2 linked regions of the Homo sapiens genome follow. The protein of the gene in region 1 purifies or fractionates together with the protein of each later gene. This does not show direct contact. Each region holds a gene or a part of one and is shown in the gene's direction. Other genes may lie near its edges.

Region 1 (7,341 bases):
TTAGACAAGAGGTAAGTAGATACATTCTAAATTGAGTTATTTATATTTGTTCCTTGCCAATTAAATTTGCTAGAAAACTGTCATAACAACATTTAACAAAATATTAAACATCTAACATTTACTGAGTGCTTAATATGTGCTATTTGCTGTGGCATCTGTATTGCAATTGTCAAAACAATATATGAGATTCATAATCCCATTTTACAGATGATGACTAGAGAGGTTCAATAACTTGACTAAGGACACAGAGCTGAGCAACTTGCAGAAAAAGTTTTCAAACCCAGTTTTGAGTCTAGAGCAATTGTTCTCATAGTGTGATTCCAGGACGACGAGCAACATCAGCATCACCTTGGAACTTTTGGAAAGGCAAAATATTGGGCCCCACCCCCAGAGTTTTGAGATTAGTATTAACAAGCCCTACAGGTGATTCTGTTGCATGCTAATGTTTGAGAACTACTGCATTGAGTGTGGACATTTTTAGTAGCATAACACTCATTTCAGATTTAGAAATCAGGTTTAAGGGATATTTGTCTTTTGTACAGTTAGATTCCCAAACCTGGCTGCTCATCCATTTGTAAAAATACAGTTTTTCTAGTTAAGAATTACTGTTTAGGAATTCCTAATCTGTGATAAGCCCAGTAACTTGTGTTTTTACAAGTCTACCAGATAATTCTGATGTAACCAGTCCATTTTGGGACCACTGCTATAGAAGGAATTCTAAAAATAAAGTAAGGTTCAACACTGATATTTGAATAATGTATGTATCTTTATGCCCAGACAGTTAGCATATGTTGAAATTAATGACTGAACATTGATCAAAATGCTAAATAATATGGAAGTGCTATATGTATAAACTGTACTTCGTTCAAGTATCAGCGCTTTAAGTGAAATAATACAAACCATTTTGAATGTCCTGCATCTCTTATGATGCTCATAAAATCTCATCTTGGCCGGGCGCGGTGGCTCACACCTGTAATCCCAGCACTTTGGGAGGCCGAGGCGGGAGGATCACGAGGTCAGGAGATTGAAACCATCCTGGCTAACACTGTGAAACTCCGTCTCTACTAAAAATACAAAAAATTAGCTGAGTGTGGTGGTGGGTGCCTGTAGTCCCAGCTACTTGGGAGGCTGAGGCAGGAGAATGGTGTGAACCCGGGAGGAGGAGCTTGTAGTGAGCCGAGATCGTGCCACTGCACTCCAACCTGGGGACAGAGCGAGACTCCATCTCAAAAAAAAAAAAAAAATCTCCTCTTGTACTACGACATATATCCTACTTAGGTGACAGAAATGTATTTGAATTTATTTTATATTTTTAGTTTTCTGAGAATTTATATTTGCCATGCTGTCATAAGGACTGTGGAGTCCTCATTTTTGCTCTTTAGTATAATGGCCTTTGGTTTAAACAGACCTGGGTTTGACTTCCATTTGCAACCCTTATTGGCTCTGTGATGATGATCAAATTACCTGAACTTTCTGAACCTCAAGTCTTAATTTATAATGACAAAATGGACACATATCTACATACATAAAACATTTATAAAATGAAGAATATATTTCTAATTCCAGGATGGCTGTGAGATTGTTAAATCACAAAGTAGTAAGTAATTTCTTCCCAACTTTTTTCATATTAAGGCATACCTAGAAAATGGTAGTATTTGTACAGTATCCTGGGGAAACTGAAGAGAGTGCTACTGGAAGCAACTGGCCAGGGTATAACAGCTGCCTTAAAGGCTGAGGCAATTAATTTCTTGGCATACTTACAATTCATTTATGGTGAGACAACATGTTGGGAGGCTCTGAATTTACAAGTAAGGTACTTACTAGGTAACAGTGCCTAATAAATGTTCCTTCCCTTGAGATTTATGTTGTGGAGGGATATACATAACCCAAGCTGTTAAATAACAAGGTTATATGTGACCAAAGGTCAAAACGAATGATTCGGAGAAGGTCTTGTAAATTGTTAAGGCAAGTTTTGTAGAGGAGTATCTATTGGATACTTGAGATGTGCCAACCACCAGAAGACAAAAATTCTGCTTCATCGGTTTTATCTCCTTTTTATTATAGGAAATTTCCTATAGTACTTGTTTTCAAAAACTGGTTCTCAAACTTGGCTACACATTGGAATTACCTGGGAAGACTTAAAATTACCCGAACTCTACTCTCAATCATTTTGATTTAAGTGATGTGGAGTATAGCCTAGACGTTGGGATACAAGCACTCTTAGTATATTATCTTACATATAACATCATTAAAATGACCTATGAGCTATGTACAATTTACAGATGAGGAAATTGAGGCCATAAGAAGTTAACTCACTTGCTCAAGATCAGCTAATTGGAGTCAGTCAGGTTTTAAACCCAGGTATTTTAACCCCTGAATCCATGCTCTTAACCACTAGCCTGTTCAGTTTTTTTTTTTTTATATGACATCTCTAAGTATCTCTCATATACTAAAGTGGAATAACAGAAAAAAAAAGAAAGGCTTCCTTCACTTTATGTCCTTTAGAGGTCCAATTCCTCTGTCCATCTTTTATAAACTCTTCAAAATAACTGTCTGTATAACTTGTCTGTATTTCATCTCCTTCTATTTTCTTGTTTGTTTGAGACAGAGTCTCACTCTGTTGCCCAGGCTGGAGTGCAGTGGTGCAATCCCGGCTTACTGCAACCTCCACCTCCAGGGTTCAAGTGATTCTCCTGCCCCAGCCTCCTGAGTAGCTGGGATTACAGGCGCATGCCACCATGCCGGGCTAATTTTTATATTTTAGCAGAGACGGGGTTTCACCATGTTGGCCAGACTGGTCTTGAACTCCTGGCCTCAAGTGATCCGCCTGCCTCAGCTTCCCTAAATGCAGTGCAATCACATTTAACAAATTGAAAATTCTTACTATGGCTTCTCAGTCCTTTGTGTGCATCTTAGCTACTTATCTGACATGATTTTTTACCATTTTTCCTTTGCTTGCCTGCTCTGCTCCACCTTACTCTTTCATGAACATGGGAAATATGCCAAGCATACTTCTGCTTTAGAGGCTTTATACTTGATGTTTCTTACCTGGAATGTTCACACCATATAACCCCATGGTTGGTTTCTCATTTAAATTAAATTTATATTTAAATGTCACCTTATTAAAGAGGTCTTTCTAACATGTATTTATTTGTTGATTTACCTAGTCCCTCACCAAATGAATGAATGAGACATGTTTCAGACCTAAGGTCATAATCAAATGAGGGACATATATCTATATACTTCATACAGCATTACAGACTTAAACAGAACTTGAATAAGTTAACAAAAGGGGACAGACCAGTCATTAATTCATACCCTTGGGAAAAAAAAATCTATTGGATACATACTTTTTTTTCCCCGAAAGTTGATTTCTACTTACACACATATTTTGTAAAGTATTTCAAAAATGTGGGAGAATTATATTGAAAAGACTATGTATTAGTCAGGGTTCTCTAGAGGGACAGAACTAATAGGATAGATATAGCTACAAATGGGAGTTTATTAAGTAGTATTAAGTCACACGATCGATCACAAGGTCCCACAATAGGCCATGTGCAAGCTGAGGAGCATGGAAGCCAATCCGAGTCCCAAAGCTGAAGAACTGGGAGTCTGATGTTTAAGAGCAGGAAGCAACCAGCACAGGAGAAAGATGCAGGCTGGGAGGCTAAGCTAGTCTATCTAGCCTTTTCACGTTTTTTTTTTTTTTTTCTGTCTGCCTTATATTCTAGCTGCACTGGCAGCTGATAAGATGGTGCCCACCCAGATTAAGGGTGGGTCTGCCTTTCCCGGAACACTGACTCAAATGTTTATCTCCTTTGGCAGCACCCTCACAGATACACCCATGATCAATACTTTGCATCCTTCAATCCAATCAAGTTGACACTCAGTATTAACCATCACAGAATAGTAGGAAACACAGCCCAATAGGTCTGCACAGCTACAACCATTAGTTCTGCCATTGTGTCATGGACTTATTAACTGATTCTTTAAATTTTATTTGTATGTATTCCAGACTTTTTCCAATGAATACTCTAAAAGGCTAAAAAAAATTAATTTTCAGCTTTACCTCTAAAACAGTATTGTTCTCACTTTGTTAGAACACTTTAACTAGAAGGAAGTACAATACAGTTTTAAAATAATGTCATAAAATGTGTGTATACACACTCATATTCATGTATGTATACATATAAGTACATACCTATATATTGCATTGACATACTGGACCTGGCATTTCCTATCATTGCCATTCTGAAGTAGATAGACATTTATTACATTATTACATGTTTCTATTATCTTTTTTATTGGTGGTTTATCACACTAAAACAGAAAATGTCAATTTATTTGGCTATCTTCCTACTAGACTAAAAGCTCCTTAAGGAAAAGAGCCATGTTTACTTTGACTTTATATAACCAGCACTTAATACTATGCCTTCTATAATAAGTAAATAGTGTTTGTTGGATAACTATATTCATTTCAACAAATAATGAACAATTCATTCTTTTAGATTTACATGTTAGAGTCAGTAGGGAGTTTGGTTTACAGGAGTGTTCATGGAAACTATGGTTTATTGAGTGTTTAATATACGCCAAGCACTTATGCTATCTCACTTAGTCTTTACAGGGTTACAGGGTGTTACTATACTCCCTTTTTTATAGACTAATAGCAACTAGCACAAGTCACTAGTTAAGCACTGACAGATTAAAACAGATGTACCTGACTCCAGAACATTCCCCTTCCATTATCGAAATATTTGAGCTGTTTTTAGATGGAAAGAGTAAAAAAATTGAAAGAAACCAAGAGATATTTGCCATTTGATAGGAAACAGAACTGAGATCAACTTATCCACCAACATGAAGTTTTACAGCCACTGGAAACTTTCTGTTGTTGTTGTTTTTTTTTTCAGTAAACATTTTTACATGTTAAACAGTACAGAGGAATAGAACAAAAGGCATTGATTTATAAAGTAAATTATTTCTGCTTTTATTTTTAAATTACAAATTATTTTAAATGTAACGCTGTATTTTAAAGATGGTTAAAGTGAAGGCTGACTGGGCAAATTGATTTTAATGTCTACTGGGGAGTCACCAAGTTATACTGGAATTAGATCTTTAGGAATAGAACTTTTGGAGTTATGCTTTTAATTCTACCTAGCATATTGTTTGACTTTTAAGAATATTTGATCAAGTAATTTATTGTACTACCAGTAATCAAATGAAGCATTTGTTATGTAGTTTCATCTTGGTATATAATTAATTTTAATATGACCAGGAAGCAAGTACATGTAAACAACTATGGTAAGGAATATTTTGAGATGCTACTGCTCTTATAGTTCTTATTTATTTATTTATTTATTTATTTATTTATTTATTTGAGACAGAGTCTTTCTCTGTTATTCAAGCTGGAGTGTAGAGGCACAGTCATAGCTCCCTGCAGCCTCAAACTATTTGGCTCAAGCCATCCTCCCACCTTAGCCTCCCAAGTAGCTGGGATTACAGGTGTGAGCCAATGAGTCCAGCTATGATAGTTCTTTAACTGATACTCATGGACGCCTGGTTATGTGGAAGAGTTTGAATGTCAGTGAATCACATAAAATTCTTGCAGAATTTAGTGCACATGTACTTTTTTTTTCTGGGGAGGAGATCCATAGATTTTATTAGATTTGTTAAAGAGTTTTTGACTTCTACATGTTTAAGAGCTGCTGTTAAATGAAATCTTGTTCTGACTCTAATCTTTTTTTGTTCATTTATGTATGAGACCAGAATATAGAATTGTTATGTTCCCTAAAAAAACTGTTTACAGACAACTTTTACAAATTGACTTAATGTAATTTCAGATTAATATTTGTCAGTGGCTTTTAAAGCTGCATTCCATTTGTCTGTTCTTTTCCATTCCATTCAGATATTTCATAACTATGTGCTAAGAGATTTAGCTTTAATATAATTTTGTTATAATTTGAGTAATTTTCTCTTAATTAGTTTAGCTATTTTGGGATGAGGAATTTAATGTGTAGTCTTTTTGTTAATTCATATGTTTGTCAAATTGCTAAGATGTATATTACTGAAGATCAGTTTTAGTTTCTTAATTTTTTTGCTTTTATTATAAGTAATTTTCTTATGGGAGAAAATGTATTTTCATTTTGACAATATACATCAAGTTATTGGGCTGATTTTACAAGTGTCATTAAAAATTATTTTTTACATGAATGTTTTTGGAGTGCACTCTCCAAAATTAGTTTTTTCATTGCATTTTAGGTAAGAAGATTGCTGTATCAACTCAAGAAAGCAGTAACTTCACTGTCTTTGTATTTTGAATTGCAACAACAACTTTGATATCAACAATGAAGCAATGATATCTAAGAACAAAAGAGTATTTGCCAACAGTCATCATAATATCAAGTGATTGTATAAGCAGAAACAAGCTGTCACAGACCTGTGCGTCAGCTAATATATGGAGAATGCTTTCTTCTGATACTATTTACTTAGAGGCAGTTTTAATATAAATCATTTCAATTATATCTACATCAAATAAAATAAAAATGAGTGAAGCCCCCAGATTCTTCGTTGGACCAGAAGATACAGAAATAAATCCTGGAAATTATCGACATTTCTTCCACCATGCAGATGAAGACGATGAGGAGGAAGATGATTCTGTAAGTTGTTTGTTTTTCCTTTGGCGAGAGAAGACCAATACAGTATAGGCTTTTTACTAATCACTGTTAGTCTTTTTTTGTTGGAAAATTTTTGAACTGAAAAAGTATATTTTGTTTCATGACTGATGTTGTTGAATCTATGATGAATCAATAAATACAGTTATGGGTCAAACCTTTATGTTGTTTAATGATGCCTATTTTAGTTTCTTTCAGTGATACGCATAGTGTAACTCAGTGTTAGGTAACAAAAGTGGCAAAGAGAAACAGTAATCTGGGCCATAAATCCAAAAGCTTTCTTGTATGTAGAAATACATAACAAATAATTGAAGATAGGTGGAAGGAAATAATTTTAAAGTTACAAAAGAAGAAGGATTACTTAAATAGATTCATTAAGCTTCTGTTACCAATGTGAGTTCTGGTTGAACCGAAGATACTCATATTTATTAACTTCAGAAGTCTGAAAACTGAGTGGCTAGAAGGGTAGGCTACCTAAAAAGTATCTATGTGTTTGTGTGTGTGTCTAAAACTTGTTCTCTTTCTGATATCATGTTCTATCCATACTGGATCTTAGGAATGATATATATTTATTATGCTCATTTTGCTATAGTTACATTAGACCAATATTTTTCTTACTCATCATTTAATTTTTTAAGTAGAGATTGCTTTACTGTGAATACTGATTTAAAAT
Region 2 (7,341 bases), on another chromosome or scaffold:
AGTCCCAGCTCCTCTGGAAGCTGAGGTGGGGAGGACACTTGAACCCCCATAGTAAAGTCTGCAGTGGGCTGCCACTGCACTCCAGCCTGGGTGACAGCAAGACTCTGTCTCAAAAAAAAAAAAAAAAATTTGTGAGTTAATGGTACAAGTGTGAGTACTTATCCAGAGTTTTATTATCCTATAATTGTAGTAAACTAAGTATTACTGTGATTTCAAGTAACTGCCACCTATATTTAAATTAAAATTAACTATGTTGACTGGTTTGCTCTAATTTTCAGAGATTGCTTTGCATAAATCCACCCCTGTTTGAAATCTATCAAGTCTTGTTAAGCCCAACACAACATCATGTAGCACTTATAGGAATAAAAGGACTTATGGTATTAGAATTACCTAAAAGATGGGGGAAGAATTCTGAATTTGAAGGTGGAAAATCAACAGTGAATTGTAGGTAAGTTGTATACTATTTATCTGTATAATTTATTATATATACAGAAAATTGTTCAAGACTAGTGGTTCTTAAGCATGTTTAGTATACTACTCTTAAAACATTAAAACACTCCTCGTGGTCTGCAGACTGGCTTCTGTGTTATCAATGTTCATAGTATATGTGTAATTGATTGTACTTTATTCTGCCTGAAGTACCACGTTGCTGTCTCATTTGAGGCTAGGCCATTCTTTCGATTAGGTAGAAGTAAGATTTTGTAAAACCAGTTATCTGTCAGCCAGAAGTTTGCCAGAAGTGTAAGTATTTTATGTGTGTGTGTGTGTGTGTATGTGTGTATATATATATATACTTTTTTTTTTTTTTTTTTTTTTGAGATGGAGTCTTGCTCTGTCACCCAGGCTGGAGTGCAGTGGCACAATCTCGGCTCACTGCAAGCTCCGCCTCCTGGATTCAAGCGATTCTTCTGCCTCAGCCTCCCGAGTAACTGGGATTACAGGCAAGCGCTACCATGCCCAGCTAATTTTTGTATTTTTAGTAGAGACGGGGTTTCACCATGTTGACCAAGCTGGTCTTGAACTCCTGACCTCAAGTGATCCACCCACCTTAGCCTCCCAAAGTGCCGGGGTTATAGGTGTGAGCCACCGCACCTGGCCTATTTTTATATAATTTCTTTTTCAACAAATCCAGAAAAGTGAATCTGAAAGATCTACTGAAAAGAGTACAGATGCTTTTCAACTTACGATTGGGTTATGTCCCGATAAACCCAGTGTAAGTTGAAAATGGATTTATTGCTGACAACACAGCAGAGGATCCCCGATTTAGGATGGTTCAACGTAGGATTTTTCAACATTATGATGGGTAACCCCATCATAAGTCGTAAGGAGCTCCTCAGTTTATGTTGGCTTATGTACTGGTAAACCCATTGTAAAGTTGGGGATCATCTGTATAAGGTAGAAACTGCTTTTAGCTCCGCAACTTATAAGTTGAGTCCCCTTAAACTGTTTACCTTCTAAATCTGTTTCCTCATTTTAAAAATAGGATTGATAATATCTGCCCTTGTAATTTCCTTACAGGGTTAGTAAAAAGATCAAATGAGATACTATATCTGAAAACACTTGTACTGTATAAATATGTATCAATCCTAAGTCAAACCATCCTAAAATGTATATATACGTATGAAATATGCTATAATTTGGAGCCAGGCACGATGGCTCACACCTGTAATCCCAGCACTTTGGGAGGCCGAGGCAGGTGGATCACCTGAGCTCAGGAGCTTGAGACCACCCTGGGCAACATGGTGAAACCTCATTTCTACTAAAATACAAAAAATAAGTGGGGTGTGGTGGCACACGCCTGTAGTCCCAGCTACTCAGGAGGTTAAGGCACAAGTATTGATTAAATCCAGGAGGCGGAGGTTGCAGTGAGCAAAGATCACGCCACTGCACTCCAGCTTGGGCCACAGAGTGAGACTTCATCTCAAATAAATAAACAAATAAAATTTAAATAAATAATTTAAATTATTAAAATAAATAAATTATTTATTTATTTTGAGACAGAGTCTGGCTCTGTAGCCCAAGCTGGAGTGCAGTGGCGTGATCTCAGCTCACTGCAACCTCCTCAGCCCGGGCTGGAGTGCAGTGGCACAAGCTCAGCTCACTGCAGCCTCCACCTCCTGGGTTCCAGCGATTCTTCTGCCTCAGCCTCACGGGTAACGGGTTACAGGCATGTGCCACCACACTTGCCTAATTCTTGTATTTTTAGTGGAGACGGGGTTTTACCATGTTGGCCAGGCTGGTCTCAAACTCCTGACCTCAGGTGATCCACCTGCCTTGGCCTCCCAAAGTGCTAAGATAGGCGTGAGCCATTGCGCCCAGCCAGTGTGCTATAATTTAGAAGATATTTTTATTTCAATTCTTTGATATTGATTGAATAGATGCCTTGAATGTCCTCTCAGCATGATTTCAGGGAAATAAATCTGAAGGAAAGAGAATCAAAGAGTGTTAAAATAGAAATTTCTTCAGGGCCTGGCGTGGTGGCTCATGCCTGTAATCCCAGCACTTTGCGAGGCCGAGGTGGGCAGATCACCTGAGGTCGGGAGTTTGAGACCAGCCTGACCAACATGGAGAAACCCCCTCTCTACTGAAAATACAAAGTTCGCTGGGCGAGGTGGCAGGTGCCTGTAATCCCAGCTACTTGAAAGACTGAGGCAGGAGAATCACTTGAACCTGGGAGGCGGAGGTTGCAGTGAGCCGAGATTGTGCCGTTACACTCCAGCCTGGGCAACAAGAGAGAAACTCCATCTGCAAAAAAAAGAAGTTCCTTTAGAAGATTTTCATCCAAGTTGTACAAAATGTTTTGGAAAATTATTATCTTTATTTTAGTACCACTCCAGTTGCGGAGAGATTTTTCACCAGTTCCACCTCTCTGACTCTAAAGCATGCTGCATGGTATCCAAGTGAAATCCTGGATCCCCACGTAGTGCTGTTAACATCAGACAACGTAATCAGGTAAATTTTATTTCTCTCTCTTGAAGCCTTGCGAGTGGGAAAGCTCTGTTTCTGTTTGCCAATTAACAGCTCAACATAGAACGAAGTGAGTCATTGAATGAGTCAGTGCTTTTATTGGATGGCTGTTGTAACCCATTCTCAATCATAAGAATTGCCTAACTGCTCTAACTTACCACTATTCCTTCTCAACTAGTCTTCCTGCCTCCAGGTATCTCCTCTCCTAATCTGACACCTTAGAATAATCTTTCCAAAACTCTTTCATCATTGTCACCCTTTTGGTAATAATGTAGCATAAAGGAAAGAGAATGTAAGTGTAAATTTAGAGATTTGAATTATTGTCCCACCTCCTTTTCTGTTATCTTTGAGATCTTGAGCTTTTTAGGGGTTGGGGGGCTCAGTTTCCAATCTTTTAAATTGAGCAGGTTTGATTCAATAGTTTCTAACGCCCCTTCCAAGCTTTGCACTCTATGATTAAATGCCCTAATGCTACGTAGATTTCTACTCTATTATCAGCTAACTTTCTGGATCGGCCTTATGTAAAAAGTTATTGGGGGGACTCAGCAGAGGTACAGATACCTTCAGTTTTATTTTTCGTAATCACTGCTTTTAACTGTGCTCTACTAAATCTTCCTTCACTGCTGAATGACTCACCCCTTAATGATGTCTTATACAGATCCCCATAGCTTTCTCGTTACTTCTAGTTATGAAAACAGTGTGTCCAGTTTAAAACTCATCTTGGCTGGTTGCAGTGGCTCACACCTGTAATCCCAGCACTTTGGGAGGCCGAGGTGGGAGGATCATTTGAGCCCCTGAGTTCGAGACCAATGTGGGCAATACAGTGAGATCCTGTCTCTGCAAAAAAAATTAGCTGGGCATAATGGCATGTGCCGGTAGTCCCAGCTACTCAGGAGACTGAGGTAGGAAGATTGCAGCCTGGGTGACAGAGTAAAACCCTGTCTAAAGAAAATAAGAATGTCGAAAGCTATTTGATCTCAAATCTTTCACAACTATGTCCTGGCCCTTTTGTAGGTCAGACCTGTGTTTTGTGGGATCAGAAGTGATTGGAGAGTGTGCGGTCTGCTCTTTCACTCTTCCTGTTATCCCAGCACTTTGGAACATAGGGTGAAGTGTAAGGAATGGGCTGCCCCCTCCTTCCTCCAAATCTAACTCCTTCAGTGTGGGGTAGGGGAGTGGGACAGGTGAGGTAGAGATCTTACCGAACTGGTAGCCTGTGAGTGATGGGGAAGTATGCCTGATCTTGTTTGAATCTCGTTCCATCTGTCACTAGTGAACTCTGTTGATGTGGTAGTCTCTGCATAGATGGTGTGTTTGTGTGTGTGTATGTGGGGGGGTGGGGTGGTGTTGGAGGGCAGTGTTGAACTTCCAGCTCCCCCCATCACTGAGGAGCTCTGGCTCCCATTGGCTCCTGTCAGTTCTCTATGCCCTGAATCTTCTCTCAAGATGGGGTACAGTATACTTTATCTGCAGGGTGTGTGTTCCAAGACCCCCCAGTGAATGCCTGAAACTGTAGATAGTACTGAACGTGATACGTGTGTATTGCTATGTTTTTTCGATCTTATAACTGAGACAGCTACTAAGTGACTAAGGGGCATTCAGCTAGGAAATGCACCAGTCTCCCTTATTACAGGTACCTCCACATCTGGCTGTTTCCTAGAGCCTTCCCTGCCCACCCATTTGGCTTTAGAGTTCAGGGCAGAGAAAGAGGAGAGGGAAAATCTTCCCATTACAAACATTATACTGTACTCCTAAGGAATCTTTGACATCCTCTCTTCTTAGTCTTCCTTTTATATGCTATGATGGAAAAGGAGATGGTGGGAAGATAGCATAGGTACAGTTCTTAAGCCCCAAAGGAAGTATCTGGCCCCAAATATTGAAGGTTCTTTTTTAAAATATGTGGTATTTAACACTTCTGTTTTCCTAAGCTTTGGAGATTTTGGGCAGTTTCAGAGCAAAAGGAAATTTTCACCGAATGCCCTGTTGCACCTTCTTTTTCTTTCACTGTTCCCCAGTACAACATTATTGCCTAGTATTTATGTGTATTTTGAAGTTAGTAACGCTTGTAGGAACCTAGGAAGACTGTAATAAATGTGTATTCAAATGGATCAAGTTATCATTAAAAATTTATTAAATACTTAATGTGGCATTTTATTGATATTGGAAGAAACCAAGTTAAAAAATTCTTAGTGGCGTCAGACAAAATAAGTGATTATAAGGGACACTGGATTTCTAAAATGACATTACTGGCCTTTTGAAAATTCCCTTTTTCACAATAGCCTTATATGCTGTGAAATGTAGGTTACTTTAAATTAAAATAATTTTGGTTAAAAAAATTCAGTATTATACTTTCCCTTGAAAATAGAGATGATACGATACTGGGTTTGTTTGTTTGGTTTTTTTTTTTTTTTTTGAAATGGAGTCTCGCTCTGTCGCCCAGGCTGGAGTGCAGTGGCGTGATCTTGGCTCACTCCAGCCTCCAGCTCACCGCAACCTCCACCTCCCAGGTTCAAGTGATTCTCCTGCCTCAGCCTCCCGAGTAGCTGGGATTACAGGTGTGTGCCACCACACCCAAATAATTTTTGTATTTTTAGTAGAGACGGGGTTTCATCATGTTGGCCAGGCTGGTCACGAACTCCTGACCTCAAGTGATCTGCTCACCTCGGCCTCCCAAAGTGCTAGGATTACAGGTGTGAGCCACCGTGCTTGGCCAATATTGGGTTTTTATATAACAAACACATAAGTAGATTTGCAGGCTAAATATCACTCACTCTGTCAGCCAGTTGGCATATAAAGAATAAGATACAGTTCTTTCTCTGGTGGGATTTGGTGTCCAATAGGCAGAGATAGATGTGTGTAGTTGAAGGAAAACTGGCAAGCTTAGGGGCAATAGTGAGATGACTGGACAAGGCGAGTATAGCTAAGGGCTCAGGACGGAAGTGACAGAGGTGCGATGTTATGGAATAGGCTGTTAAAGGGTATTGGTAAGGATAGAGAACATTTCTTCAGGCCCCAATGAAACTCCCTTATGTAGTTAAAGAATAAATGAACTAGACTACTTTGCAACAGCAAGATTTTTGCAAAGAAATAGTTGTGATAAGTGTTAGAAAATTCTCAAGAACTGACTAGATGGAGAGGAAAGTGCAGTTTTGGGAAATGAAAACAGAATTTTAAGTGCTGGTTTTCTTCTCTTTTGGTTGCTAGAATTTACTCACTACGTGAGCCGCAGACACCCACTAACGTGATAATACTTTCAGAAGCCGAAGAGGAAAGTCTAGTACTCAATAAAGGGTAAGTTTTTATTTGAGTCTTGAAATGGTTTTTTAATTAGCTTATTGGGATTATAAATGCAATTTTAACAGGTTGCAAGGTTTTTCAGAGGTGACTAGCATGCTTTTGGTAATGTGAGAAGTAAGTGTATTTTTAGTAGAACAGGGATTCGTCGTGTTGGCCAGGCTGGTCTGGAACTCCTAGGCTCAAGTGATCCTGCTCGTCTCAGCCTCCCCAAAGTGCTGGAATTACAGGCCTGAGCCACCATTCATTTCTTTATCACCTTTCTATGTGATAAAGAAACTAAGATAATATCTTGCATTGATGTTTGCTCTCTCAACTATATGAAATTGTGATTTCATTTTAACCATATTTGTTAACTTTGTATTGAACTAGAATCTTCCTGAATAACTACAGTAAATTTTAAATATAAAAACAGCATGGTTTTATGATTTGCCTTCTTGATATACATGTAATGTATATTTGCTGTAGAAAATTGAGAAAAATAGATCAAAGTATTAGGAAGAAAATGAAAATCTTTGTAATCTCCTATAGCTATAGCCTGTTTCAATACAGCACCCAAAGTTTAATCACATCATTCTACTTTAATCTAAGTTTAATCAGATCAGTTTAATCAGATCATTCTACTTCCCTGCTCTCCATACCCCATTGATTTCCCAGAGTCTTTACCTATAAAGGGTCCACAGGTATGCCACCTGATTGCCTTTCCAGCTTCATTCCTCCCTCTGTGCCCTGGCTCTCTGGGCTCCAGGCACCTTGGCCTCCTTGCCATTCCACAGACATTAAGCACTTCTACCTTAGAGCATTTGCTCTCCACCTCAACTGCTCCTTCCCTAGTTAACCACAGACTTGCTCTCTTACTTCCTTCAGATCTTTGCTCAAATATCTTATCAGAGTCTTTCCTATACCAAGTAGTCTAAAGTAGCACCTCCATCAATACCCTCTTACCCTACTTTATTTTTCATGATATTTTCTGAGTTTATGTTCCATCTTTATTTCTTCTCTTTTTGTGGTATTTCTCTCTCTAGAGGGCAGGACATTTGTTTAATTCACTGACATATTCCCAGACCCTAGAAAAGTACC

Evidence for each region.
Region 2: the proteins of PPIP5K2 (region 1) and NUP88 purify together in Homo sapiens (affinity purification with mass spectrometry; 2 studies listed by BioGRID). This does not show direct contact.

The regions. Positions count from the first base shown.
Region 1 is NC_000005.10:103,123,051-103,130,391, forward strand, and holds part of PPIP5K2 (inositol hexakisphosphate and diphosphoinositol-pentakisphosphate kinase 2), read left to right. Parts: intron 1-6,255; 5' UTR 6,256-6,539; coding exon 6,540-6,653; intron 6,654-7,341. UniProt on the Homo sapiens protein: Bifunctional inositol kinase that acts in concert with the IP6K kinases IP6K1, IP6K2 and IP6K3 to synthesize the diphosphate group-containing inositol pyrophosphates diphosphoinositol pentakisphosphate, PP-InsP5, and bis-diphosphoinositol tetrakisphosphate, (PP)2-InsP4.
Region 2 is NC_000017.11:5,409,620-5,416,960, reverse strand, and holds part of NUP88 (nuclear pore complex protein Nup88), read left to right. Parts: intron 1-278; coding exon 279-448; intron 449-2,826; coding exon 2,827-2,952; intron 2,953-6,171; coding exon 6,172-6,258; intron 6,259-7,341. UniProt on the Homo sapiens protein: Component of nuclear pore complex.